Linked DNA regions of Homo sapiens: regions 2 and 3 are each linked to region 1. The links come from fine-mapping of genetic effects on gene expression. A gene starts in region 1. Each other region holds a variant in brackets. All regions are shown on one strand. Distances are from middle to middle. Region 1 holds the start of GDAP1 (ganglioside induced differentiation associated protein 1). Region 2 has its middle 87 kb from the start of MIR5681A. Region 3 overlaps JPH1 (junctophilin 1).

The links.
Region 2: its variant is fine-mapped to the expression of GDAP1 in fetal neocortex (Walker 2019, PIP 0.95).
Region 3: its variant is fine-mapped to the expression of GDAP1 in blood mononuclear cells (TOPMed, PIP above 0.99).

What each region holds. Positions count from the first base shown.
Region 1 is chr8:74,345,777-74,353,965 of GRCh38, reverse strand. GDAP1 (ganglioside induced differentiation associated protein 1) reads right to left here and starts at 3,563. Exons shown (of 6, transcript NM_018972.4): 1 at 3,388-3,563; 2 at 2,500-2,692. The coding sequence starts at 3,504. RefSeq lists an enhancer at 3,321-3,550.
Region 2 is chr8:74,457,423-74,465,611 of GRCh38, reverse strand. It overlaps a transcript of GDAP1 not described here. Among named protein-coding and RNA genes, the nearest start is that of MIR5681A, 87 kb to the left of the region's middle. The variant G/A (reference allele first, on the strand shown) is at 3,899.
Region 3 is chr8:74,293,206-74,301,394 of GRCh38, reverse strand. All of the region lies in intron 2 of JPH1 (junctophilin 1), which reads left to right. Among named protein-coding and RNA genes, the nearest start is that of JPH1, 24 kb to the left of the region's middle. RefSeq lists an enhancer at 1-327 and a silencer at 5,498-5,637. The variant G/T (reference allele first, on the strand shown) is at 3,405.

The sequences.
Region 1 (8,189 bases):
TTTTTTAGAAGTGTTAGGGACATTCTCCAGCAGTGTAAAACTTAAATTGGTTCCTTTCACTGAGATACACAAAAATTTTAACATATTTAAATAACTATTCACAATCTATTCTAAATTTCCACCAGATTTAAAGACAGTAATTTACACCAGTGCTTACTTAACTAAACACTAATTTATAGCAGTATTCTCAAACTTTAATGTACATACGAATCACATGGGGCTCTTGTTAAAACAAAGATTCTAATTTGATAGGTCTGCAGAGAGCTCTAAGGTTCTGCAGTTCTAACAAGCTCCCAGGTGACACCAATGCTGCTGATGAATGGAACATACAATTAGTAGCAAGGGTTGGTAGAATTCACTTTTCCCCGTCTTTGACAATAGGATGTTTGTCTATCTTGTCTGACTTTCATTCTCCATGAGTTCTTAAAGATAAAGCATCTTAATTATAATTGTGATAACGCTGTTTTTAAAATTTCAGTACTCTGAGATAAACTTCTTCTTGACCTCGATTTATATAACTTAGCCTTGATTTATATAAACTATTGTTCTCTTGCTGTCGTCCTATCTACCATAAGTTTTGGGTCCCTTAATCGTTTTTTCGTCCTTCCCAATTGATTGAAAGATATTCAACAAGTTAGTGGCAGCATCAGACTAAAAGCTAGGACTCTTGATTGCTGAGTTACAATAATAGTTCAACCAGAATTAAAGTCTGCACTTTCCATATTTCCATCCTGTCACAGCCTACAGTGCCTTCTCTTCTAATTCTTAAGTAATCAAAAGAACTTAGCATTTCCTTTGTTTGGTTATTTAAATACAACTTAGCAGGACACAGAACTTATTTCTGCTTTGTTACTATTCTGTACTAAAAGCAAAAGAGAAAGACTAAGGAAAATTGTAAGAAAACCTAATAATTGGTAACATTACTATGTTGTAAATATAATTTATATCACTGAATTTCTTAGAGGAAAAACAGTGTAAGGAGGGGATGGAGGAGGGGAATGATGATAGTAGAAGCAGTTCAGGCAATGCTACCAAAAAACTTAAATGGGATTTTCCATTTAGAATACCTTTTTAAAGTTTTTGATCATTTAAAATAGATTTATTAACACAATTATTTTGTTTTGTTCCATTATAATTACATCCCCCAAGAAATACAAATTAACACACTTATCCATTTCCAAAAAGCTCAAGATTGAGAAAAATTCTCTTAAATGAACTAGTTGTCATTTTCAGTACAGTCCCCAGCATATAAATTTATAAGGAATAGCAAATAAAGATGAAAAGAAAGTACATCATTAAATGCTTTGGTTTACGCTAAAGCTACCTTTAATTAAAACCGCCAATCACAATCCTAGGGGACTAGCACTTAGATTAAGAACAGGGGTAGCCCATTGCTAATCTAATTCCCTGGGCTTCCCCCTCGCCACTGCCCACCATCTAGGCCTAATAATACTCATTTTCCTTCTAAGTACATGAGACTTTTTTTTGTCCTAGTAATTTCCTTTGTCAGCTTCCTGTAGTTTGGGGCTAGGTTCTGCTTTCACCTACCCTATTAACATCAACATAACTGGTGGCAGATGAAAAGTAACAATCTCATACAGCCTTTTTAGAAGAGCATTCAGCTGGAAGCTCTGAGCACCATGTTCTGCTCTCATCAATGTCCATTGTGATCAGCTGTGTAGTCTTTGGTAACTCTTTGAAGCTACAGTTCACTTCAAAGGATTATTATTAGGAACAAGCAAGACAATGTGTAAGTGGCAAGGATTATGGGAGACAGTCAGTGTAGTATGAAGGCTTTGGAGACCAAAGACTCTGCCATACAATAGCTATATTACTTTGGGCAACCCTGTTGCTTTCTCCTCATTTACATAATGGGAATAACTTGTCTACCATGCCTGTCTCAGACAGATACTTTTGAAGACATTATTGAAGAAATTATAAAATGTCTGACACATAACAAGCTGTTAATAAATGATTTACCTAAATGCACTATACAAATTTAAGCCCTATAATTCCTTAGTAAAGATATAAAATTCAAACAATTCAGAAGTGACTGGGGCAAAGAACTCAGGTATACTAACATTCTATTCTCCTTTAAGATTTATTGCTCTTTTTTCCCTCTTGTTTTTAAGGTGAAACCATTTGGTATATTAGATGAAATCGTCACAGTGCACATTTAGAATATTATGAATTTAAGACTAAGAAATCACCAACACAAACCACACATTTGCAGTTTTTTGCAAGTGAATTTTTTTAAGTTTCAACATTAACATTTGTATTTTGCATTAAATTATTTTAAATAGCATTACACTAGCCTATACAAAATTTGTTATTGACCTATTTGATATTTGTGTGCTTATGGAAATGGAAAAGGTTTTTAATCCCAAACCACCATCATGACACAAGAGAAAGAGAGAGAGGAGAGAGAGAAAAAGAGAAAGGGAACACATAGTTGTGTTGAAAGTAAATCCAAGAAATCGCAAGTAGCCTTAACATTACCATCCAGGAAAGTCTGTTCAAGATAATCAATGATCTGAGTGGCCTCACAAATTATGTTTTCCCCGTGGATAAGGACAGGCACTTCTCCAGTTGAGTTCAAACGCATAAACCAAGGCTCATTGTGCTCACTCAAGGGCAGACTTACATCATGTTCCTCGCACTTCAATGCCTTTTCAGCAATTACCAAGCGCACCTGGAAGAGTTCACACTGGTTACTACAACACATGTAAGCTTTCAATTAAATGACTTCCCTGGACACCGCTAAGCAGCCTTTCTGGGCTTCCCTGTGTTACCGACATTTTCAACAGTCGTTTTAACAATTCCTATTCCTGGAATTAACAAGTAAGGAAAGAACAATACTCAACAAATTAAGAGAAGAACACAAAATAAGTAATGAAATGATTCTGACTGTATTCATTAAACAGTCACCCTCCTCATCACTACCACTTTCTCGGTGTCCTAAACCTGATTATGGGTCCTCCCCAGACAAGAACCTGACATGTAGGTACATCAGCTCTTGCTGAAGACAGTGAATGCGAGAGAGCAAAAGAAGAGATCGCAGATTATGAGGGTCCACAAAGGCACCTCCCTCTGCCTCTCTCCGAAGACCAGCAGGCAAGGCCTCCAGACCAAATACTGAAAATGATGCTTTTTTGTCGCATTTCGCGAGAGGCGGAGCCTGGGCCATAGCCACATAGGATCATCTCCGATCGATTCTCCCCGCTCCCCACCCGGGCGCGTCCCCGCCTGGAGGGAGCGCCTGCCCGGGGTCAGGACACTGGAGGCGGATTTCTAGGTGGACCGGCTTCCCTGGGCGGGACTCAGAAGGAGCTGTCCCAGTGCTGAAGCCCGATCCGCGCCACCCTCCGCCGCCAAGGCCTGTTGTACCTTTTGAGAGCTGAAGGAATGCGTCCAATGGTACAGAATGAGCTTAACCTCCGCGTCGGCCTTGCCTTCCGCCCTCAAGGGCGGGCTCCCTCTCTGCTCTTCCTGCCTCTCAGCCATCTTGGGGTGCGCGAGCACGGGTGCGCCCAGCCTGTCCGCCCTGGACTTCTCCCTCCCACACTGCCCCGCAAGGCGTTTCCGGGTTTTGAGGGGTACCTGCCGGAAGGAGGGCGCGCGGCCCGCTGGGAAATGTAGTTTCGCCGGCGGCAGAGTCTGCGAACACGCGGGGTCTGCGACTGGAAAGCCCCTGGCAAGCCTGGGAGTGCACCTGGGAGGTGCAATTGAACGGTTGTTTTTTGGGTTTGTTTTTTTTTTTAGAAGAAAAAATAAAAAATATGAGACCCTGGTTATGAAGGGCAGTAAGGAAGAATGATGATAGCAAATTACTCTTCGGTTTGGAGGTTGCTCAGGTATAAAAGCAGCAATTTCCCAAGATACTGAGGGTTGCTCTTGGAGCCTGTTCCTTTGTTGGAAAGGAAGTTCCGGTCGACAAGCAAAGCAACAGGAAAAGGATCTATGAGCTTTCATTAGAAGATGCTACTATGACATTAGTGGACTAATTCCACAAATTTGACTAACTGCTGTAGATTAGAGAATAGTCTTGTATAAACAGTAAGTACTTGATTTTGATAATTAAACTGTGCTTTGTAAAAGAAAAAAAAATACCACTATGGAGTCATGCAAAAAAACTGTTTTTGTCATAAACAGCTAATAAACAATGGCGATATAAAATAGCCTAGTTGTTAAACACAAAAATTCTACAACAGTACTGCCTAAGTTCATATCCTGGTTTTTCCATTTTCTAAGTAAGAATAATAATTTTATTGTTTCCCTCATAAGATTTTTGTGAAAAATTAATAATAAAATGTTAAACACTCAGAACACCCTGTCACGTTGTAGGCACTCAGTCTTAGTCACAGGTTCAGTTGTCTTATAAACATTCTGTTATAACCATAGTCAGAATCATAATTTTATATTAGTCTAGTTATTATTGTATGTCTTTAAAAATTTGGCATCATATAGTAAGTTGATTTTAAAAATCTCTTTCAGTAATATGTATAAATATGACCATAGAATAAATGCCTGTATAATTTATCTGGCAAATATTTATTGAGCACCTACACTGTTCCAGACATTGTGCTGGCTCCTGGTAATATAAAGATGTGTGAAATCTAATATCTAACACTCAAGATATAATCTGGCAGTAGAGACGACCAAGGAAATAGACAATCACAATAAAGATGAGAACTGTCTTAGGGTGAACACAGAGTACTATGAGAAAGGAGGGGCAGGCAGCCAACCCAGGTCAGAGAAGGGCCCCTGGAAAAGACAAAATCTCATGAGGTTCTTCCTTGCCTTTACAGTACTTCATTTGTTACTCTCTGTAATTCTTTCATAATTTTTTAAGATTTCATAATGTCTTTTATATCCTTCAGTTAATTCAAGTGCTATAGAAAAGGTGAATTCCTTGCCAAAATTGTTTTTATCAGTTCACACTTAAGAGTAAGAGCGGAAAGAGGAAAACTTTGAAATCGGACAGAGTGGGGTTTAAATTCTAGCTCTACCCTAACTTGAGCTTTCTTGAGCTTTGACTTCATTGTGTGTAAAAAATGGATACATAAAAATTATATGCCTACCCAGATGGCTGTGGGAATTCAAGAAAGGATATATATAAAGCACCTAGGGTATTGCCTGGAATGTAGCCATTGATAAAAACATATGTGTAAAAGCCCCTTCACTGACATTAGGAGGGCATTATATTACATTTCATCCTCTCTCTGTAGGTCTCAAAATTTTTACAACTACCCATATAATCCTCCTCTCCCATTCCTCTTCAGAACTTCATTTTTTAATTATCCACCTTCAGATTCCTAGTTTTCTATTCCATTACCTTCAATAGCAAACACCACGCTTACTTTTGCACCAACCTTAATACTAAATCATCCTAAATATTTGAATAAATTCCAGTACTCGTGATAAGCCATGTGTCACCTGCAGCTGAAAAAGTCCTGACAATAAAGCCCTGGTCCCTCAAACACAACACTTTTCTCCATCACATCCTGCCCACAGCAAAGCCATAGAAGAAACACTGAATGACTTGATTACTTGGTGTTTAGTACAAAGCATTCATAGATCTCATTGGGAGTGTAAACATGCACAGAACTTCTGAAGGCAAATGTATCAATATGCTTCAAGAATCGTGAAAATGGGCATAACTTCTAACCTAGAAATTCCTCTATTTGCAATTTAAGGAAATAATTCTGACAAATTCTGACAGTTGATCCTACCTATTTTTCCCTTCTTCCGTGGTAATAGAAATTTTAGCTGAGCACATGACTGCTGAGAATAAAGACTGTATTTCCTAGGCTCTATTGCAGCAAAACATGGTCTCCTAACTATCTTCTAACAAGGGGAAAGTCATGGATGTGCCACAGGGCAAGTGCTGGGAATCTTTCTTAAAGAGACAATTAGCCCTGTGCCTCTTCTTCATCCCATCCTCCATCCTGCTTCAGAGAGGATGGATTCTGACCTGGACCATGAAGAATGGGGCCACGCCTTAGGAACAGCTGGGCCATGAACTTGGGGAAAATTGAGCTTCTAAAGACACTGAGGAGCAGAACCCACACCAACTTGGGTCTGCAAACCTCCAAACTTTTACTTGAAAAGGAAAAAAAGGATCTTGTGTAAGGCACTGTTATTTGGTGCTTTCTGGATGCTATTGTCTTAACCTATCCTCATCAATACATCAATCTTGTAAAATATAGGTGGCTTTTATTTCTTTATGATTCTGTATACTCTAATTGTTTTATAATGAATGTGTGTTGCTTTTACCTGTTAAAGGTGTGAACACTAAAAGAATATCATTAAATAGATGACATAAGGAAAAATGTGTTTGTTTTATCACAATAGAACTGCTACATCTACTTCCAATGATCTATAATCACTTTTTTCCCATCCCAATAAAAGCCACTGTTGGTAATATAAAAACCTTATTATCCTTTCACATGTTTATTCAGAGCTCCTACTACACTGTGTATTCTGTGTCTATGGTTTTTGTAGATCATAGACATGATCATTGTGGGCTCCTTGAGGACAGGAGCCAGGTCCAGGTAAATTTGTTTTCAATATACATTTTTTGAGCCTTAAGTGCTAGATAGAGAAGATACAGAGTTCAAAGTCAGTCACAGTCACTGGCCTTAGGGAAATCAAGTGTGAAGGCAGAGAAATGAGATCCCAACACAGTGTGGTACTTGCTGTGACATCTAGAAAGTTATAGTAGGAATATAGAGAAAGGCACCTAACACAGATAGGCTTCCCAGAAGAGGTGATAATCTTTACCATAACTAGTACCATACTAACACAATTACCATTATATCCAGGGTGGTGCCCCCACTGGCTCATGATAGCTGATTGTTAAATTTTCAGGAATTTGCAAAGTGGATGTTCAACTCAGCTATTAATCAAAATTAAATCAAACTGAGTTGCATTTAAATGAATTATTTCCGCCGGGCACGGTGGCTCATGCCTGTAATCCCAGCACTTCAGGAGGCTGAGGTGGGCGGATCACGAGGTCAGGAGATCAAGACCATCCTGGCTAACACGGTGAAACCCTGTCTCTACTAAAAAATTAGCCAGGCGTGGTGGCGAGTGCCTGTAGTCCCAGCTACTCGGGAGGCTGAGGCAGGAGAGTGGTGTGAACCCGGGAGGCGCAGCTTACAGTAAGCCAAGATCACGCCACTGCACTCCAGCCTGGGCGACAGACTCCATCTCAAAAATAAATAAATAGATAAATAATTTTAAAAATAAAACTAGCAAATACTTAAAACTCATCACTTCCTAATTATGTGTATTATTATCTATACTCCTGAGTTTATTTGTGTCTATCATATCCATACAAGGCAAACAGTATATAAGGATGTGCTACTTGCATATCTCTTCCTCTCTGTTCAGTGATGTCATGTTAGTGACTTGAAATTGGCCATGGTAGAACTATTTACAGAAATCGGTAAATGCTATCATGTTTAACTTTTTCCCAGAAAGTTGGTTGTTAAATATTTACTACTATACCATTGAATGTATCTATCTTATTTAGTATTTAATAAATTGTTTTGATGAGGAGAAAGAGAACCCTGGGTAAATTTGTGAATGAGTAAATTTGCATACTAATTTGCTTTCGGTACCTTTTACTTTCCTAATCAGCTTTTGCTTCCTTCTCCATTTCCGAGACACCCACTATGCTTATTATTTTTTCATTCTCTTCACTATCCTTAGGAAGAACATGGATATGCACAGGTCAATCTGCCCACTATCAAACACTGAGCACTTTCTCTAGCACATATTCCCAGCAGCAAAACCATGAACTAGTAAACACTGATGAACTGATGACTGCACTGATGTTCAATATTAATACTTTATAAAGAAAAGGTATAAAGTAGAACGTCTGCATCTAAAGATCGCAAATGGCTTTCTTACAATCTCATTTGATCTTCATGATAGCCTGTGAGGTAGCTACCATCCCTAAATTAGAAGAGCTTCCACTACAGTTATAGCTAAAGAAATGAGGTTTAGTAAGTGAAATACTAGTCCAAAATCCTGGAGCCGGTGACAGAACTACATCTCAGACACACATTTTCTGATTACTAGTCAAGTATTAGCTTCTACTACACTATGCTAGCCTTAAACCAAAGAGAGAAAGTTGTGGACTTGCAAACTTTAACCAGCCTGAGGTGGACTTTGGAGAAAAA
Region 2 (8,189 bases), 110 kb before region 1:
GGTTATTTTAAGCAGATGAGTAATTTGACCAGACTTACAATTTTAAATGATCAAGCTGCTCGATGGAGACTGTGTTGGGGAAAGATGAGAAGGAGAAGTGGAGAACCTATCAGGCTATCATCTAGTCCAGAGAACTTGGTGGCTTGAACTCTGTGGGGCAGTGGAGGTGGAAGGGAAGGGAGACCAGCAGTACTTTGTAGGTAAAATTTATAAGGCTTGGCGAGAGATTGCATGAAAGGGGTAAGGGAAGCAGGTGTATCAAGAATGACTCCTAAACTTCTGGCTTGAGCAAGTGGGTGCGCCTACCTGAAATAAAGATAGGGAGGAACTAGTTTCAGGCAGAATAGCACGGCTTAGGTTTATTTTTTTTTATTTTTATTTATTTATTTTTGGAGAGGAGTCTCGCTCTGTCACCCAGGCTGGAGTGCAAGTGGTGCTATCTCAGCTCACTGCAACCTCCGTCTCCCGGGTTTAAGCAATTCTCCTGCCTCAGCCTCCCAAGTAACTGGGACTACAGGAGCACGCTACCACGCCCAGCTAACTTGTTGTATTTTAGTAGAGGTGGGCTTTCACCATGTTGCCCAGGCTGGTCTCGAACTCCTGAGCTCAAGCAATCTACCCGCCTTGGCCTCCCAAAGTGCTAGGATTACAGGCATGAGCCACCATGCCTGGCCGACAGCTTAAGTTTAGATGTTTTAAATTTAAGATACTTATTTACAATTAAATTTAAAAGGTGATATCTTAAATTGTAAGTATCTTGGAAGATACTTACAATTTAAGATGACAGTAGGCAGGTATTTAGGTTTGAATATGAAATTAATATCCCTTTCCCTAAATATGGCATGACTGTCCATTCCCCCTCAGTCTTTGTCTGACGGAGTTATTCTTATCTCTAGCAATACTCTTAGCATATACAATCACATCCAGGCCCAACTCAAAGGCATCCTGCCAAGACAGCATATTAGGGGCTCCATCTGGAAGTGTGCACAAAATGTAGTATGCTGTTATAAAACCAGCATTCAGGGTGTCTAGATGGACGCAGGGACAACCATATGTTTTTCAGTTTCCACACTATTCCTTGAAAACAAACTTGCTTCATTGGGCTTTTGCCAGCCAGCCTTCCTAGCCCCTTCCAATTGCTCCTCCCTTAGGGTTGCACATTGTTCTTATTTCAATTGCTGTTGCTTAGGGTCTTACAGAAAACCAAGCAAACCACTAAAATATGACCCTGTTCCCCACTGACTTTGAATTTTACTGCAGCCTGGATCCCTCTGCTATAATGCTACAACTTATCAAGTCACCATGAATTGAAGTAGCTTAAATTAACCCGGAATTTGACACTCCCCTATTGGCACTGTATTTTGGACTGTCTGCCAACTATGAGTGCCAGTTTTTTCTACTTTGACTAATCATTCCACACTTTGGGGTTCTAGCATGCCTCACCCAAACCTGTTTTGTTGATAAAAGTCTCCATGTCTTTTCTCTTTCCTTCTGGAAACCCAGATTTGTCCTTTAAAATCCCACTCAGGCACCAGCAGCACCTTCATTTATTCTCTCTTGGGATGGTATTGTTAAACATATTAGAACTAAATATTTCCTCCACATTTCCTTTAGTTGTTTCATAGCATTTCTCTTGATATAGCAGGTACATACGTATTTATGGATTTTTTCCCTTTATGCTAGATATTTCAGTAATTTGGCCTCTACTAAATAAATCCCGCCATCATGTAGTCATTTGTATTGATTTGTGCTTATATACAGCCAACTCTATTTGCATAAATGACTACAATACACAGAAGTTTTGATTACTATTACAATTACTGAATTGCTTTCTTGTAATTGTGGTAGTAACCATTTTAAGGTTGATATTCCAATTTCTACATATGTTTAGTTTCTCTACCTATGTCTTACTTATTTCTATTAAATTAGACAGTTTCTCTCCAAAGCTACATATGTCTTACACTTATTTCTATTAAATTAGATGTGTGCTTATTAGACAGTTTAATAAAGCAGAGGAACAACCTCTGCTTTATTAAAACTTTCCATAGCAGAATGCACTTTCCTGCAGCAAGAATCCTTTGATCCACTTTGGACACATTCCAGCATATTGTGTAGCACCTCTGTTAAAATACTATTTTTGTTTTTTTTTTTGAGACAGGGTCTCGCTCTGTCACCCAAGCTGGAGTGCAGTGGTGTAATCATAGCTCACCGCAGCCTAGAACTCCCGGGCTCAAGCAGCAATCCTCATATATCACCCTTCTGAGTAGCTGGGACCACAAGTGCACAATACCACATCCCGCTAATTTATTTTTTTATTTTTTTAATACATATGGGGTCTCCCTATGTTCCTAAGGCTGGTCTCAAATTCCTAGGCTCAAGCAATCCTTCTACCATGGCCTCCCAAAGTGCTGGGATTATAGGCATAAGCCACCACACCTATCCTAAAATATTCTTGAAGTCATGCTTACTGTGCTACATCAATTTGTTTCAGCCCACAACTGAGGATCAATCTTAGAAATGTTATTTACTCATTTGCCGTAACTTATTGCCTTAATTACATATCACTTGCAATGTCATCCACCCTAAAGCTAAGCTTTCATGTACTGTCTGGTTCTTAGTTTATCAGAACACATTAATATCTATAAACTTTTCCCTTTGCACTTGATCTTTTAATAATTTGATCTCTTCTGAATGAAACAATTCATCAGGTTTTGTATTTGTATTGATTTCAACTTACGTCCTTGTCACTTCATCACTCAAATGCTTTCTAATCTACTAGATTCTTAAAGGCTTGTTTAAATGCTGGCATATCTTTTGAAATCATTCAAGTATAAAAAAAATTCTAGGATTCTCATTCCCAATTTTTGTTTTACCCTCTTCTTAGTGGTTTCTGTGTCAAACAGAAGCAAGAAGGATTAAGTTCCTTAAATTATTCCTAATTTCTATTCATTTTTCTAAAGAATATGTTAGTAACTCCTACAGGTCTCAATGTCTTGAAGTATTGACAGTTGATCATTAATGTCTATTTGGTAGGTACCATTTCTTCCCTACAGTGTATTTTTATAAAATTGCTTGCTTCTGCCCAATAGTCTCTAACTTACCATCAGCTGGAATGAACGATTTTTACCCTGTTCAACTCTACATGTCCCAAGGCACTAAGGAAAATAGGCTCTTCAAATGAAAACAGCTCAGACAATATTTGTTGAATTAAGTCATTAGATGTATTGAAGGAAATGCTCACAGGCCCAAGTCTCTTAAATTAATGCGAATAGCTCTTCTGTGGTAGCTCTCTGGTCCCTAAATTGATCTATTTTCTTAGTTTTCTATTATAGCTCCACTTAGAACACACAATCAATAAAAAATAAGTAGCCCAGCCCAGCCAGGAAGTACTTGACAAAAAATTAACTCTAGGCAAACAGAACTCAAGGAGTCACTATATATAGTTAAAATCACCTAGCCATATTCTTAACTCTTTTAAATCTTTATGTGTTAAAATAATAAAGTTTGTTTAGATACCATCTAACTGAAAGTTTGTTTTTATAAAATTCCATCTCTTAGTTCCATCTTTTTAAAAAAATTATTCAAGTTTTGATGTTTATTCTAAGACTCAGTGATACTATGATTTCATATACTTTTTATTGTTCATTTGCTGGAATAAAGAGAGGAAAATTTTATTCCTTAGGATGAAATGCTTTCTGCTGGAACAGAATTGTTTTTCTCATTCAAATCTTTCAGTGCTTTATGAGATTTAATGGCAATAAAATAGCTGCACCTGCATTTTTGTAGGAATGAAAAATACAAGTGAAACTGAACTGAGTTTGACCCATGGGGGTCAAACAGGAAAAATTCATTTGACACCATTAGCTTTGGGGTCCCATGTGAGCATGTAAAACACATT[G/A]TACTTCCCTGTCTGAGAGCATAATCAGAATCTATCCATACAATGCCAAACATGTGGAACATGAGCAACCCAATCAATTAGTCACCTAACATTTAGTCTGGATGATGCCAAACATCTGGATACTTGGAAATATCCAAATGAATGGGTGAACTTTTCACTTTTCTTCCGAATTTTTTTGGCAGCATATGAACACAGCCAAATGTGGGCACTTTGAATTGTGTTGTTATTTTTAGGCAACAGGTTCCAAAATCTCTTAAAAGACCTAGCTCCTCAATAGCCAAAGAAAATCTATTTACAATGCAGTCTTTCATGATTAATTTTGATAAAGAATTTATGTGTTAAAACTTACAATGGCAAAAATCAGGGTCATTAAATAATATGTATGTTTATTTAATAGGCTTTAGAGAGCAGAGCATTAATGTTCTGCTTTCCCGGGAAAGTATCTATATTAGGATAATCTGCTTAAGCTTATTATGTACCCCATTTTTAACTCAGCATGCTCCTGTGCCTATCCTCTAATCCTTTCCTTGCTGTCTCAGAGGTTTTTACAAGAGAAATGTGGGACAGATTTATGGCTAAGAGCAGAAAAATGAAGAGGGTAAGGGTGCAACGCCCAAAGGCCAAAGTGGGACAAAGCATTGGCAGTGGCCTCAGATGCAGACTGACATCCAAGTGCTGGCAGAAGATGTTCTGTAGGGAAAGCCCAAGAGGATAGAGAATACCCTCTCCCAATACAAGGACAAAGCCTTCAGGAATGTAGACCAACTCCAAGAAAGTGGGAAGAGAAAGCAAAAAGCCCAGGGTCTGTGACTGAACATTTTAACACTGCTATTCTAATTCTCTTCCTTTTTGTCTTCTCTTCTCCTCTTTCTCCTCCACCTGTTTATCTTCCTTCTCCTCCTCTCTCTCATTCTCTCTCTCTTTCTCTGTATATTCATGTCCCCAAACATAACAGGTCAACTCCACAAATAGAACCTTTTCTTAGGACCCTACCACTCTTCATAACCACCATTCCATAGCTCATTTCTTCCTGGATTAACTCCTCAGGCCCCTGCAGGAACTTCATTGCCTATCCACTGGGCCCTCCTTTACTCCCTGCAGGCCAGTTTCTGTTCCTGCTGTTCAGTATTAGATTTTCCATTAAGCTAAGGAAGCTTAAGCTTCAGGGGCCCTCCCATAAAGGAGTCTACTAGCTGAGGCCCTGGAAGTGGCCCTGGCAATGTGTTCACATAGACATATGTTTTAGTAAAATTGGCGACATGACATGAAGTTGCAGGGTCAGAAGTTGTATTGTAATAGAGCAACTGACACCAGAATTGTGTTGAAATGGAGGAGAATCAAGATTTGGAAGGTTCAGAGCCAGAAACTAATCAGTAGAAAGTTACAAATGGAACATTCCCTTCTCATTGATGCTTAGTCAAAATAAATTTCTCCTTTATCAACAAATGCTTGATCAACATGACACATACAATTTAAGGAACATTATGTATTTCTTCCTTTTAATGGAGATCATAATGAATGAAATTAATCAGAATCCCCATTCGTGGGGCACACATCTATAGCAGTGCAATGAATACTAATATGTCTGCTTGAATTAACATGTTTTATGCATCCCAAATTATTGGATAGTATCTCAGGATATCTGATGCACTTTATCCTTATTAAAGACTAGATGTTGTACTCAATGCTGCCCACAGATTGCCACCAACACAGATAAATTGCCTGAAGAAACAAGTATTCCAGTGACAAAGCTCCTGCACATATTGCATTAGGAAGTAATCCAGTGGTGGCATAAGAGTAATTTATTCAGAATTATGTTGCTGAATATAATGTGGTTGTAATTTTAAGTACATTTGAATAGCTCCTGCGCATGCCTTAATTTCAAATTAATTTTGTACATTTTCAGAATTATTCATATAAAACATCAAATATATTCTAAAGAAGTATCCCAGTGGAAGCCAAACCTGTTAACCAAAAGAAATAAAATTGGCAGAAACTTCAAAATGTCTTTAAAGTGGAAGACAATTGTACTTTTCAATGTATAATTTGTTATTCCTTTTCTCACTCAATAAATATTCATTTTATTCCTATTCTTTTGCTTAAAGTCCCTAAATAGTATTAGTTTCTGGTTCCACAAACCCTGATTCACCCTGACTTCACCATTGCATTAGCGTTTCACAAATTGAAGTGCCAGAAGCTTCTGCCTCAGAATCACCTGGAGTGCCTGTCAAAATGCAGAATCCCAGACAAAACACTAGATCTATAGAATTACTATCCACAGAGGTCGCTCTGGGACTTGCATTTTTAAAAAGGTCTGTGTGTCATTCTTATGCACACTCAAGATTGAGAGATGCTGCTCTTTTAAAATGTTTTCTCAAAAGTGTCTGATAATCTATATCCTGCCAGCTCCCTTTCTCTAGGTCTCATTCTCCTCATTATTTCCATTATATATGACACTGATGAAGCTCTCTTTTTTTGAAAAGTAGAGCTTGTTTGAGTTATTTCTGGTACTTCTCTGCTTTTGTTTTCTTACCTCTTTTGGGCTTCCACCCACCAAGTGTTGGCACAGCACACCAGGGTCTGATTGTACCCCTCCATTTTTATGAATATTTTCTTGCCCCATTAGTGAACCAATTCACTATCAGACCCAGTTATCACCTGTATAGTTTCCAAGGGCTGCGCAAACTAATTACCAGAAACAGGGTGAGTTAAAACCACCAAAATTTTTTCTCCCATAGTCTGGAGGCCAAAAATCTGAAATTGAAATATCAGCAGGGTGTCTGGAGGCTCAGTGAAGAGCGTGCTGCTGGCCTCTTTTCTATCTTCTGTGGCTGCCTCTCAAATCCCCACCTGGTGTGTGTGCCTCAATTTCTCTCTTCTTATAAGGACACAAGTCATATTGGACTGGGGGCCGCTCTAATCCAATATGACCTCACTACAATTGATTCATCTGCAAAGACTCTATCTCCAAATAAGGTTAAATTCACAGGGTCCAGGTAGATAAGAATTTTGAGGTGACACTATTTAACCTGGTATATCATCCCTGTGGAAATGGATCCTTACAACTTGAGAACTAGTCTTGAAATGCTCCAATATCCCACTAAACTCAAGAAGAAACAAACACAATTCATCAAAGTATCTTCTTCTTTCCATTTGCTATACAAAACCATTCTTGAGTTGTGGATGGACCTTGCACTGCTTCCTCATTTGGACCCTGTTTAACCCAGCATGGGCAGATCAAACCAGGACATTCATTCTACACTACTGAAGAAGTGTATCCATGTAAGTGGGCCATGGGCCAACAACTGTAAACATTGTCTTCATTTCACATGTGTCCTTTATAATGACCTCACAAACTTAGAATGAGTGGTGTCTTGGGACAATCTGGTCATGGTCATTTACTCATAGCTTAAAGAAAATTAATATTTCCTTGTTATATTAATTTATATATATTAATATTTAATATTTCCATGTTATAAAATAATCTTCATTGGGGATTAAACTGCTAAAGTATAGGTATTCATTTGAATTCACCATCTCAATAAAGTTTGCAATGAGTTAATAAAATTCTTTAAGAATAGGAGCACACCATGTCAATATTGTATTTATTATATCCCCTCAAAACTGTAGGGATGACTTCAACTCTATGTTTTAGGGGTAATGATAGCAACTCATTTAGGGACGGTGAACAGTTATTCTTAAAAACTACAAATGGATGTTATCATTTGAAGAAAGAATTATCATAAGTCATATAAGTAGTACACTACTTCCAAGGACTATGATGGACTTTACTGATAATATCATGGTAATCATAATTACATGTTTGGAAAAATAAATATGAAGAGACTAACAGTTTAAGAGATTTGCCTCTGATCACTGAGTCATAGTGTCTTGTAGCTTAAACACTACTCAAAGTGAATCTGGGTGATTGTGGTCATTCTCTAAACATTTTTGTCAATTGCCAAGTAGCTGAAATTTTCTCTAAGTCTTCTTTGGAAAAAGGGACAAAATAAAAATCTCTATGAAATTCTTTAAATGTTCTTCGTTTAAAAAAATAGATGTTTAACATGTTGAACAAGCAGAATATTATAACTACTTCCTTTACATCTGTTGAAATCAATGTTTATTCCGCCTGAACAAATTGTTTAATGTGATAAATAGTTTGAAACAATCTGATAACATTCTGAAATCATTTTTTCCTTCTCTCCATAGAAACAGGAGGAAATAATTTTAAAGGGAAACTGGAAGTATCCAAGGTTGCATGGCTGAATTTTAGTTCAAAATTCAAAAT
Region 3 (8,189 bases), 53 kb after region 1:
GGCACACTAAAATTTGGAAAGTGCATCGGGAGGATATGATAAGAAACAAAATTCCCAAGGTTTGGGAGCTGCATTTTCTGCTTTTGGCTTTGGGGAGTCTTCAAAGGCATTTGAGAAGGGAGCCATCTGCCTTTGAATGGATGGTCTGCCTGCTTCATGGAGAAAGAATTTAAGTGGGGCCAGGACCGGAGGCCTGGTCTGTGGAGGAGGTGATAAAAGACCCTGGTTGAGGGCAGGGTGGCAGAGACAAAAGGGATAAAATTAGCAGGACTTGATGGACTGCAAGTAGTGGGTTAGGAACAGAGGCAAGTCTGAGATGTTGTGTGGATGATACTCTAATACCCCTATTAAGGTTAATGAAAAAGGTTCATTCATTCCCAGTATATGGGTGATAAATTATTCAATTAGAAAATGTAGTGATTCATTCCCGGTATACGGCTGGTTGGGGAAATGGGGCGGGGGGCCAGTAAGGCTCCATCATTCATATGAAACAAGTACATATGAAACAAGTAATCTTTCTGGGTCTCTCTTTCTTATCAATGAAACGGGTGAGGAAGTGGAAAACTTGACCAGATTGTCACAGAAAACCTGAGTTTGGATCTCTACTCTTTTGTGAATTCCTCTCCTTTCGCCTGTTTTTGAACCTGACTTCACATAACAATACCAATGCTTCTTATAGAAATTATTCAGTTAGTAAATGTAGTGAGACAACATTGACATTTTACTTTTCCAACTCCAGATTTTTCCTCAATCAGAAGATGGTATAAAAGGGAAAATGTCATCCTGTATACTTCGGAACAAGATTATAGTTAGGACCCTCTAACCAAAATTAAAACCATTTTGAAGTAGCAGTAAACATTCCACGCACACAACTCACTTACCAGTTATTCTTGTTTATATCAGAAGTATTATCAATACTTACACACTTAGTACTGTGCTAGATGTGAATGGAGGAAAAAGCGTGGGCCTGACCCCCTCCGCCCCCCACAACGCACACACAAGCTTAGAGTCAATTAGAGAAAATGCATGTACATGGGAGGTAGTTAAAAAAATAACACGAAGCAATTCAGTCAGTCCCGTATTTGTTTATTAGTGCTCTGCCACATTCCATGAAGGTTTCATAGTTTATATAAACGTCAAAATGGCTAGTCTTCTAGGAATTAACAAAGGAGTGGATTGACTTGTTTATAAAGCAGTTCCAAAGACTTTTACTTGGCCTATAGCCTAGTGATATTTTGTTTTTGTTGTTTTTCATGGTACTGTGTGAATTTGACAGTAAAAGCATTTTGAAAAATTATTCTAACTCTTCGCTAGATCAGAGTAACTTTCAGCCCATTGTTGGAACTATGAAAATGTGATTCTAGAGTAAGTAGTCACTACTGTTTAATTCCGTAAGTGAAAACGAGGGCGAGAAGAACATATTGAAGGTTTTCTTTTCTTTTTTTCTTTAAACTTTTTAGTAATGAATCACTTTTGTGGTGTTAAAAGTTCAGCTACAAAACTTTATTGTTTAAAAGTTTTCTTTAAATTACAGTTGCTATATTTGTAACAGTTAAAGATGTGCCACTGTATTCAGCACCCAATGACAACATGTTAAAGATACTTCAAGGGAAATAGAAGGCATACACCAACAAAGGGAAAAAACAAAACAAGCCTCAGACAGGCACCCCGCTCCCCATAAACAGTGTCTATGTAAATATGCATATGTGGCTGTGGTTAAAAGAAAAACTTTAGCCAAATTTAACAGAGTTTAATTGAGCAAAGAACAATTCGCACATCAGGCAGCCACCCGAGCCAGAGTGGGTACAGAGATTCCAGTGCAGCTGTGTAGTTGAAGAAGGGTTATAGACAGAAGAAGGAAAGTGAGGTACAGAAACAGCTGATTGGCTACAGCTCGTCATTTGCCTTATTTGAACACGGCTCGAATCGTTGACCCCCTTTGATTGGCCCAAAACTCAGTGATTGACACAAGAGTAAGCTACAATCTGTATACAACTCCATTTAGGTTATAGTTCGTGGTGTGCAGAGAAACCTTTAGGCTGAATGTAAAATATGTAAGGAGGCAGCTTTAGGCTACACTTAACACCCTAAAGAAATACTGAATAATGAGAAAAAGGGAGAAATATTAGAAAGACGAGGTGAATAAAGAAGGTCCCGGTATGATTAGTGTGTCTGGTGCCAGGAAGAGTTGCTCTGGAATGACTTCGTAAAGAAGTTGGTCCTTCGGCAACATTTTAAAGGGAAGCTAAGGGAAGATTTGTTCACAGTGGATCGAAATTTTACCAGGTGGGAGAAGACCCCATCTAATGATGTACAGCCCGAGGAGAAAAAAACCCCCTCAAAGGCAGTAAAGGTCACCAGTGTTCATTATTTGTGGGCAGTGTCGTCTTCGTGGCTTTTTGTAATAGGTCTTAATTTTAGCTTCATAGCCTGTTTAATCTTCTCCTGATATTCTGGGTTGATGTTTCGTAATGGCTCCCATTGCCAGTAGTAGAACCTGAAAACAAGGATCTTTCATATGCACACAGGTCTCTCGTGCCTTCATTCTACCACCAGGAAAAACATCCAGAAAGGTAATAAATTTGTGGAGAACAGCAGTGGTATGACTACTCATATTTCTGAAAATGAATGCTGTTGTAGGAAAGTTAGGAAAGTGGTGGAGATATTAGCTACAGCCCTACTGTCAGATTTGTACCCTGTAGCTTCATCCTCTTTTGAAAAGTCTTACAACAAACCCACCTGGATTTTGCGTTGCAGTGCCGTCGAGTACAGCTGAGTCATGGCAAGAGAAGAGGACAATTAGATAAGGGGTGCCTGACTATTAAAGGATCTGAAAAGCACTAACCAGGGTATTATGCAACACACAAGTGGAAACCGTTTCAGAGTGCCGAGGAAGTTATTAACAGGAGCAAAACAACATGTGAGGAGAGTGATTTTAGCTACAGTGCTCAAGGTAGATTGCAAGCAGCAGAAGTTGGGGATGAGATCATAAAGGACATGAATAAATGCATCTAGGCAATAAAGAACTGCACCCTTGAAATTTGTAAAGGAAAACCCATCTTGTATACAACAACCAGCTGTATACAAGGGAGTTAACGTTCTAAGGATGTGAGTACAATTAGCTAAGAGCATAAGTGGCACCATAAAGGCTGATGGAGACATTATGGGGAGAAAGATAGTGAATCTGATGTGTGGACATTCAAGGTGATAGATAAAAAGATAACATGAGTTTCAAGTAAGAACAGTACTTTGAAGCCTTGAGCACTTAGCAGCTTCCCGAGGATATGAATACATCAAAATTGGAGATTGGCACTGGCATTTATAACAGCAATTATTAGGAAAGTGAGTAGAGGGGGCTGGAATAGAGAAATCTCTAAAGAAGAGGCAGAGATGATGACCTGTGT[G/T]TGGAAAGAAGCAGAGAATTATTTTTGTGCTACTATTAAGACAAAATGCTAGACAAGGTTCAATTGTTGTTATAAATGTAATTTCTCTATATAATTTCATCATCTAAAATCAAATTAGCAAGTACTTTTTATTTAAGGGGTAATAAGAGTAGTCATCACACTATCTAGATAGCCACACACTATCAAAGCTTTAACTCTTCATGTTGACTCTGACTACGTTTATATAAAAGAATGAAATTCACATCTATAACTTTCTTTGCCTTAGAAAAGGCATTTTCCAGTTTTTATTAGTTGTGTGCAAAATGGAGCAAAAGAATGAGCACATGGCTGACATGAAGATATTTGTCTTACCAGTTAAGCAGTGTGAAAACTTTGCAATGACTAATTTCAGGCCCCAAATGCAGTGGTCTGGGGCTGTACCTCTGGGAGGACATTACTAGGCATTTTAACTGCATGGAGTCGGTAGGGCAAAGAACAGTGAGTGAGTTAAGAGTCCCGCGAAGCACACTTGGATGCAGCTTGAGAACAAGAGCAAGGGGAGCTGAGGGTCTGTTTTGTGTTATGTTCTGTGGTACCATCTGTATCTTTATGTTCCTTGGTCCCTGCTGGAACTTGTCACATGTTTACTCTGTTTGACGTCCCTCTCTGGTTTGTAATAGAGAATCTACATAGTCTCCAAAGCTGGTCGGGAGTGCAGTCCAGCTGCAAATCTTTGGTGATGGCAAGTCCCTGCTTGAGAGGACTCCTTGCCCGTCGGAGTCTGATCAACCCTGCTCCTGCAAAGAAACAGCCAGGTGTTGGGTGTGTTTGATGAAGTACAAGAGTCTCTGTTGGGCAGTCTGATTTTTCTGTTAAGAAAATACTAGTTATATGAATGTTCTGCTGTAGTCCACCAGCAGTTTTTTTTACTGTTCATCAAACATGAAAATATGTAAAGATAAAAATATTTTTACTAAATGATGAACAAATGAGTCAAAATATAAAATTGTTTATGTCCTGAACTCTTCAGGTATCAATTTCTCCTGCAAAATCATAGCTTGCATTGGCTTATGCCTTATACTTTCTGTCTATACGTGGACTTCGAGTTAGCCAGAGATGTAAAAGTTTTAAGTTTTCAAGCCATGGAGGTTAAGAAGGGATTTCTTGGATATATTTATTAGCTTGATTTAATAATTCTGCAGTGTATCCATATATCAAAGCATCACGTTATACGCTATAAATATATACAATATTTATTTGTCAATTATATCTTAAGTTGAGAAAGGGAAGAGGGATTTCTTGGTAGAAAAAAATGAAATTTTTAGGCAAGCTGATATATTTGCAGGCCCTGAATCAAGCAGCTATAAAGACCTTTAAGAATTTAAAATAGGCTTTGCATAACTGGATTTTCTCATGACATTTTGAAGAACTTTTTTCCTTTGAGTTTTCTGTTCCTCCTTTCCCCATTCATTGCATCACTATGATTAATATGATATTCTGCTCACTTAAATTCTAAATAACTTTTAGAAGCCTGAATAAATACTGAACTAGTGAACTTTAAAGCCAGATAGAGTTGCTATAAAATATTTTTCCCAATAGTTAAGCATAAATCTAAAGCAAGTTAGGATCATTTTTAATGAGAACTAACTTTGGGTTTGTACCCAGAATAAAATGTTTGCTTATACCACTCTGGGAAAGAAAGCGATAATTATGAATAGGTCATTTTTAGATGTCAGTGGCTTACTTTATGCTTATTAGTATATACTATATAGCTAATAAAAATAACTCTGTTTTCTATACCTTGCACGGGACCCAGCACAGTTACCAAGACATTATAGGCACTCCAAATACTTGGTTTTGATTTATCTCCTTTGAGTTAATATTCTTCCTTGGAGATTTAGAATAGGCAGTATTAGGCTAAGATTTAATCGGGTTTCTGATAGTTCATCTATTAGCCCAATACTCCGTGTGTGTGTGTGTGTGTGTGTGTGTCCTTACTGAGATTGCTACATACCAGGTTGTTCCCTTTCGTGGAAATGGTGATTATTCGTAACTGAAAGTCCTTTGTGGTTAGTGATAGTGATTTCACAGGACTCGGGTAAAACACACACGCAACGCCTGAGTGGTTTGAGCTAAAACCAATGAGTTGCAGTTTTGGAGGTTTTCTTGACTCATGACCTGGGGACTGTACCCACTCCTTGAACAGGTTTCAGATCAAGGCCTAGGAGCAAGAACCCGAGAGACCCATCTGCAGGCAAGCTGCAAGAGAATATCCTGCTTTTCCTCAGGATACTAGCCCTGCCCTCTGTTTAGGGCCAAGAATGCCAGAAAGACTCTGGGACCTTATTAAACTGAGCTGAGGGGGGAGATTTTATTCAAGTGTTGTCTATGAGATCTGTTAAGCCTTAGATTTCTTACCCAGAAAATGGGATGATTTGGTACTCAGCTCACAGGAGTTTAGGAGAATTAAATGAGATCAAGTATATGTGAGTGCCCTTGGCACAGTGAGTAGCACTTAGTAGGTGCTAAATAAACTGTTACAGCCAACAATTGTTAAATATTTTCATGCCAAGTATTGTGAAAAGACAGTGTTCGTCCTCAGAGTGTTCTGGGCTGAGAAATTGAGAAAGCCAGCGTATAATATATGAGGTGATGAGAGCTGTGATATAGCAAAGAACTATATGTACACACATATAGAACTATATACACACACACACATATAGTCACATGGGTGACTATATCATCAATGTATACATGAGCCCAGCAGAGGGTCCCTAATCACTTAGAGGAACCAAGAGACCTTCTAGAGACTTGAGTCTTGAGCAGGGCCTGAAGGAAACCAGTAGGAGTTTCTAGAAATAGAAAGGGGAGAAAAGCTTTCCAAGCAGAGGGACCTGCAAGGGCAAAAGCATGGAGGATTAGGAGCTCTCATTTGTTTCTTCCCTGCTAAAGTGCTATTGTCATTCAAACTTATGTAGGTCCAGGGCACAGAGAAGCAGCATGTGTGGTTAGTGGTAAAGCACACACTCTGTGCCACCAGACAGTCGTTTAGACCCTGGCCCTGCCAATGCTGTGAGTTGGGCAGATGGCCTAACTGTTCCACGTCTCAGGCTCCCTCATCAGCAAAATGGGAAAAGAACAGCAATAGCTACTCAGAGGACCATTGTGAAAATTTAAAGAGTCAATAAATTTAAAGTAGAAAGTGGACACTAAATATTTCATGTTAGAGTAAATGTTGTGATCATTTGAACCAGCATTTTCCAAATGCCTGCTCTGTGTAAAGCAAGTACACATTTTGGTGCCTTGGGAGAAACCAAAATGAAAAAGATACGGACTCTATCCTTCAGGAAATTTATAACCAAGAGACAGATGAATATGTAAACAACTAGCAATGCAGCTTGAAGTTAAATAATAGCTACGTGGAGGTTCAGACAATGTGTGGGAGCATCACCAAAAAAGAAATTTGTTCTGAGGAAGAGGAAGAATTCTTGTGAGAAGAGAGATTGTTGTAGAATTTGTGCCTAGTGCTCATTTTGACTTGCTTTGTCTTGGTAGTACGTGAATCAGGACAGGGACATCCGGGCCTGCTTTTGGCCCTGTTTCCTCACCGTGGCCGACTTTGTCTTGGCTTGTCTCTGGTCTACCTGGACAGTGTTCAAATGCTTCACTTAGAAATGAAGCTCGAGAGGTGAATAAGGTAGGTTTGATTTATCAGTTTTATTACTCAGCTGCTTGAGAGAAGTGCAGAAAGAGCAGGAGCTGAGGGCAGGTGGCACGTGGGGAACTTTATCTTCAATGAGAAGAAATCAGGCTACAGAGAAGTCCCCAGGCCCTAGCTGTAGAGCACATTCACATAATTGCCCTTGTGGCCATTCATGCTCCTGCCTCCCACATTCAGAGGAGTTCCCTCAGGTGTGCAGGATTTTCCCCCACCACCAGCCCCCAAGGACAGACCAGAGTGACGCCTGCATTGTGTTTTGGAAGTCGGGGCTGAGATGAAGGCAGCCCTTTCCTGCAGTGAAGGGGGACCCTGGTCTGCGCTCTACAAAAGAGACACCCCATGCCCAACCTAGGGGCTGCTGGCTCTTGAGTGGGAGGTTGGTGTCAATTGGCCCCCGGTGTCTTTGTCTTCCAAAAGTTGGGTCCAGACTATCCTATTTTTGCCAGAAATATCTCACAGGCAGTGGTCCAAGCCTGGCATAGTCTCATAGTTTCAGCTCTGATAAAGTGCCCTCCCCTCTTTATGGTCAGTCTGGTCCTGGAAGGAGAAGTGGTAAGTCAACTCTAATTCAGTTATGGTTGCCAGAAATCAAAGAAGTGAATGTGAGCTGCATCACCAAGTATTACAGAAGGCAGAAAAGGCAAAGCATGCCTATAAAATCTTTAACATGACAGCCTGGTTTTTACTCAGAGAAATTTAGGGAATTATTTTGAAATATTTCTGCATGATGGGGTAGTGGTTCGTTCAGCTGTGCAACTTGAGATCTTGGTTCTGTCACTTTAAGTGGCCTTGAGCAACCGGTTTCACCTCTCCAAGCCTTAGTTTCCCCATCTGTAAAATGGGCATGATAGTTAGTGGCACCTCCTCACAGGGTTAGAATGAGTGCTTAATGAATTGGTGTGTGTTAAGTGTTTGGAACGGTGCCCAACGCTAGTAAACTCTGTGCAGGTGGAGCTCTTACTCTTATGGGGTCACATCAAGAGATTTTTGGTGAATTTGTTTTCCTGCTGCCACACTGGGCCTATCCAAGGATATAATAGTGTCTTTGAGGCATTATCCAAGGCTTTTGTGAAATACAGGTCATA